2 separate regions of the Homo sapiens genome follow, and region 2 is linked to region 1. A link means that fine-mapping ties the variant in region 1 to the expression of a gene that starts in the linked region. Tissue or cell type: whole blood. Region 1 holds a variant in brackets; the other region holds the start of a gene. All regions are shown on one strand. Distances are from middle to middle.

What was found. PIP is the estimated chance that this variant, and not a neighbour inherited with it, causes the effect. A credible set is the group of variants that fine-mapping cannot tell apart.
Region 2: UACA starts here. The variant in region 1 is the best candidate, but not a certain one, in a credible set for the expression of UACA in whole blood (INTERVAL, PIP 0.51).

What each region holds. Positions count from the first base shown.
Region 1 is chr15:70,787,984-70,790,894 of GRCh38, reverse strand. No RefSeq gene overlaps it. Among named protein-coding and RNA genes, the nearest start is that of UACA, 26 kb to the right of the region's middle. The variant C/T (reference allele first, on the strand shown) is at 1,749.
Region 2 is chr15:70,761,802-70,764,712 of GRCh38, reverse strand. It overlaps UACA (uveal autoantigen with coiled-coil domains and ankyrin repeats), which reads left to right and starts at 1,155. Exons shown (of 19, transcript NM_018003.4): 1 at 1,155-1,383. The coding sequence starts at 1,306. RefSeq lists a silencer at 981-1,390.

The DNA.
Region 1 (2,911 bases):
TTTGCCAATCACAACATACATTTGAAAAATAAGTACAATAGTCCCCCCATTATCTGTGGGAGACACATTCCAGGACCCTCTATGGATGCCTGAAACCTTGGATAATACCAAACCCAATTGCCATCAGTTGAAACATGTTCTGTACATGTCTTCCACCCACAAAAATTAATGTCTTTTCCATCTAAACTAGGCACTTACCACACACTGTGGCAGTAACTTTTGCAGTTTGGTGTGTGACAGCCAAACTAGTACAAACTCCTTATCATGGTATTTTTATTTTTTATTTTATTTTATTTTTTTTTTTTTTGAGACAGAGTCTTGATCTGTCACCCAGGCTGGGATAAGTGGCACAATCTGGGCTCACTGCAACCTCCATCTCCCAGGTTCAAGCGATTCTCGTGCCTCAGCCTCCTGAGCAGCTGGGATTACAGGCATGCACCACCACACCCAGCTAAATTTTTTTGCATTTTTAGTAGAGATAGGGTTTTGCCACGTTGGCCAGGCTAGTCTCGAACTCCTGGCCTCAAGTGATCCACCTGCTTTGGCCTCCCAAAGTGCTGGGATTACAGATGTGCGCCACCATGCCTGGCCTTTATCATGGATCTAAACAACCTCATCATGCAGTATCTTTTCTTTCCTTATTAAGTGGAGAACTTTTATCTTTTCCCTCAAAGGAAGCACTTGATGCCTTCTCTTTGGCATACCCAAATTGCCAGCACCACTACTCTTTATGCTTTGGGGCCATTAAGTACAGTAAGTCCTCACTTAACATCATCAATAGGTTCTCAGAAACTAGGACTTTAGGCCCGGTGCCATGGCTCACGCCTGTAATTCCAGCACTTTGGGAGGCCAAGGTGGGCGGATCACCTGATGTCGGGAGTTCGAGATCAGCCTGGCCAACACGGAGAAACCCCGTCTCTACTAAAAATACAAAATTACAGGCATGGTGGCGCATGCCTGTAATCCCAGCTACTCGGGAGGCTGAGGCAGGAGAATCGCTTGAACCCAGGAGGCGGAGGTTGTGGTGAGCCGAGATTGCGCCACTGCACTCCAGCCTGGGCAAGAAGAACGAAATTCCATCTCAAAAAAAAAAAAAAAAAAAAGAAACTAGGACTTTAAGTGAAACAACATATAAGGAAATCAATTTTACCATAGGTTAATGACACAAACAATAGTTAAGTTCCCTCAGCATATTTCTGGTGACAAAACTGTCATCAAACTTCTAAATATATGCCAAACTACTCATATTAAACCTTACAATAAATGTGAGCTATGCATGTATTTAAGAAACATTATTAAAAGCAAGTAAGATAATTATTTACATTCTTATTGCAGTTCAGAGCCATGGGTAGCTGGAGCCTGTCCCAGCAGCTCAGGGTGCAAGGTGGGAACCCACCCTGGAGAGGGTGCCATTATCTCACAGCGTGCAGCCACACCCACACTCACACCCACACTCACTCATCCTGAGATGAGGTAGACATGCAAATTCACCTCATGTGCATATCTTTGGGATGTGGGAGGAAACCCACGCAGACATGAGGAGAACAAGCAAACTCCACACAGATGTCGGCCCCAGACAAGAATTTATTTTTTTTTTTTCTTATCAACATTATAACAGAGGCCGGGTACAGTAGCTCATGCCTGTAATCCCAGCACTTTGAGAGGCTGAGGCAGGTAGACACTTGAGGTCAGGAGTTTGAGACAGGGTTCTCTACTAAAATTACAAAAATTAGCCAGGTGTGGTGGCA[C/T]GTGCCTGTAATTCCAGCTGCTCCGGGCTGAGGTAGGAGAATTGCTTGAACCCGGGAGGCGGAGGTTGCAGTGAGCTGAGATCATGCCACTGAACTCCAGAACTCCAGCCTGGGCAACAGAGTGAGACTCCAACTCAGAGAAAAAAAAGAAAAAAAAAAAGGACAACGTTATTCAAGGCCTTGTTATCCTGTAAAATAAGAGTCACTTGAACCCAAGCACCGTGATACGTGACAGTCGTCTTATAACAGAGATGGCTATCTAGTGACTAACGAGCAGGTAGTGTCTGCAGTGTGGATCCACTGAACACAGGGAGGGTCCACATCCCAGGCTGGATAAAGTGGGACAGTGCACATTTTAAAACTCATGAATTGGTTATTTCTGGAATTTTCCATTTCATATTTTCAAACCTTGGTTGACTGTGGGTAACAAACATCAGAAAGCCAAACCATAGATAAGTGGGGAGGAGACTACCATTTGAGACATGTCTGAGTCATCTTACAGATATAAGGATTTGTGATGCTTAGCATAACCCATAGTTTACAAGAGGTCTAGGGTCCAAAGGTTGGGAACCACTGACCTATTGCATTTATTGACAATGAATCACAGTCCTGGTGATGTTGCTTGCAACTGTCACCTAACTCTTCAGGTCTCACCATCTCCCTCAATTACACTGAATCTTTCCTGAGGACAGGAACGTCCACTTATATGCCTTTGTACACCCACAATGCTAATGGACCCATCAATTAAGGACCATTAATTGAGCACTACCCATGAGGAGGACACTGAATTAGATTCTGTGGGAGGTAGGAAGTGCAGAGTCCAGTTTCTGCCCTTCAGATCTCACATCTGGTTAGAGATATGGCAAATGCCTTTGAGAAATGAGGTAACAATTTAATGGCTAAACTTCAGAGTGAAAGAGAGGTTATGGGATAGATTAGGAAATGAGTTGAACAGATGCTGACTGCTATGAGTACAGAAAAGGAGGAGTTAAGAGTATGCTGCTGAGCTGGAAAACTATGTAGAGGGGTTTGAGTGTGTGAGCCTGAAAAAGGATTAGTACTCAGGCACTTCTTTCAACTCCTGGAAGGTGCTCAGAGAGTAACTGAACAAATACATGCATAAGAGAAACACTTTTGGTCATTTGCTCCAAGATAGGCACAAA
Region 2 (2,911 bases), 26 kb after region 1:
TTACTTGTTGTATAGGGTTAACACAGTCTTTGAATGCTGCCTCTCCAAGAAATTCTGAAAACTTTCTTACAGTATTTGAAGAAAACCTTGCGTTACTATAAAGAAACTCTAAAGAGAGCAACTGACCTTTCAGACAAAAAAGAGTCCTTTGTTAGTCAGAAAATGTGGACCGTTTGTCTTTTCAAATGGATGCATGCTACGATAAACGTTTTGCTGGGGGGAAAAATGACTCCAAAGAAGACTTTTGAAGATGTCACCCGAACAGCAAATTATTGGGTGCTGAGCACCTTCCTGTTTCTTCATCCTCTTAAATAATTTTTACTAACCCAGATTTCTAGGTAAGATGATTTAACTTCATCGTATACGTTTACATGTAATGTGTTTCTACAGAAAACAAAAAACCTTTTTGAAGAAAAAAGGGCGTAACTTTTTTTGACAACTTAAATCACTGGCTGTGGGAGTCATTTTTAATTGATGGCACCTCTTCTCCTCCCTCCCCGCCCCCATTCCGTCCCTTTGCTTCCAATACGGCGGATTCTTCACTCAACAAATAAACGAGCACGTAACTTGTACTGTAACTTACTATAACGTCTTTCAAGGTCTTTCTTAACTGTACGTTTTTCTGCACAATCAGCACCTTATTTCTTAGAGACTGTTTATTTCTGGAATTTTTGATGCGTGTGGTGGTTTCCAGGCACCAGGATTTGGTAGTAAAACAGGAGACTGAAAAGAAGTTGCTCCTGAAAGCTGTTCTGTGTGCAGGTAACCAAGAGTCATTTCTAAGACCAGACGGAAGGGAAGGAACTTTACTTGGTAAAGAGCGCGTGGGTGGAAAGAGGAGGGGAGTCCGGGAAGATGAGAGGTGGCAAAGGCGGGACCCCGTGCTCTCTCTAGATCTTAAGCTCCGGGTGGGCGGGCGCCGGTGGCCTGGAGCCCGGCCTGCGCGCATCTCCACGCCTCTGGCCGCCCACCTCCTCCGCCCCTTCCCGGGCTAAAGTTCCCAAACTTTTCCTCCAGCTGGGAGAGGAAGGGTGTTACTCAGTTTAAAAGGGAAGTCCCGCCCCATTCCCGCATTCCGATTGGTCGCGGTTTGCCACGCCCCCGCCAGGGCAGCGGGTCAATTGGCTACGGGAGGGGAGCCCCGCCTCAGGCCTGTCGACGTCTGCTGCCCGGGGCCCGCAGGTGGCAGGCAGGTGGGGCTGGTACAGCCCGCGCCGCCTCTGCTGCAGCCGCTGCCGTCTACTCCTTGCGCGCTGGCACTCCGCAGCCTTTAAGGTTCGCGCGGGGGCCAGGCAAGAGTTAGCCATGAAGAGCCTCAAGTCCCGCCTGAGGAGGCAGGACGTGCCCGGCCCCGCGTCGTCTGGCGCCGCCGCCGCCAGCGCGGTGAGTCCCGCGGTCCGGGCTGCGAGGCGCTCCGCTCCGGGAGCAGCGCAGCCCTCCTTTGCTGGCGAGTTCGCGCGCCGCCTTCCTCTGCTTTTCCTCTGCCAGTTCGGCTTCGGCGGCCCTGGCGACTCCTCCCTGAGGCCGGAGACTCCGTCAGCCCAGAGACCCCGGGGATCCTCCCCGCCGCCGCACCCGAGCCTCTACGGGTCTCTTCCCCACCCCTTTCTCCCAAGCCTCCGAACTTCTGGAAGAAACCTCAGTGGGGCGGTTCTGGCCCCCTCCTCCTAAATCCAAAGTTCCTCGATTGGCACCCCTACTCCGCTCTTTCCGTTGACCCCCCCTCGTCGCTCTCCTCTCCCGGCGCTCGCCCTGCTGCCCACGCCCGCTCGGCCGTGTTGGCTCCCCAGTCCCCGGGGCCGGGGCTCGCACCAGGTAGGGCAGGTGGGCAGGGCTGCGCACCCCGCGCCACCGTGCCCGGACTCCGGACCTTCCCCGGGTCTGAGACAGCGTCAAGCCCTGCCGGGCTGGTGGACGTCCCGTGCTGGCCGCTGTCGTTGTCACTGGGAAGTTTGATTCCCCAGCGAGGCAGAGGGAATCGGCTTAGTCGTAAAGACAAAACCCCACAGGGTGGTGACCCTAGAGGTGGTGAAGTTGGGAGGGGTGGTGGTGATGTGGGTTGTGTAAATCGCACCTGTGGGGCGGGATCCGTGCGGGGCTCTTTCGGTGCTGACCTGCAGCGCGGCCTCAGTGTGCGCGCCAAGGAGTAGTCGGGGCCTCTTTAGTTGGCAGGAGAACAGAAATCTTGAGAAACAGCCTGACCGCAGATGTTGTGATTTAGATAATTTGTCACGTTACAAGAATGGCGATATCATCAAAATTCTATATCATTAAAATAAGTGCCACTTACAAAGTCTTGGAAGAGTCGAACGTAAAGGAGTTGTTATGCTCCAACTGCACAGTTACCTAGTTGGGGTAATTAAAATGAACCTTTACAATTCAACGCAGATTTTACCAAATGATTATATTCTTTTTATCAGAATACTAATTAATCTGCTTCTGCTTTTTTGAGTTAATTCAGTTATGCCTTTCTCTCCACCTATATCGAGGATTATTTTACTTGGACATAAAGGAAATTGTGGAGGAACTACCTAGACTTAAATTCCTATTTCAAAAAAAGAGAGTAGATTCAGATGACGTAATTGATGTTCTTTGATAAAGCATGAAGTCGTTTTATAAGCTCATGGAAAACAGAGATTACTTTGTTTCACTTTTTTTTTTAAAAAAAGTAACTGGCAGAAATGTCATTTAGTGATATTGGAGTTCATTACAGTTAAGATTCTACTTCTGTAATGCAAGTTGTGTTTTTAGCCTTATAGAAGATACAAGTTTCTAGATTTATTAGCTTTGTTTTCCCTGGTTGTGTTTGATTTGCACTAAGGATGTAAATCCCACTTGGAGGTTTATATGCCTTAATTTTATCCAGTTTTCTAGAAATGCAGAGTATTTAGTAGGTATTATCAGCATGATA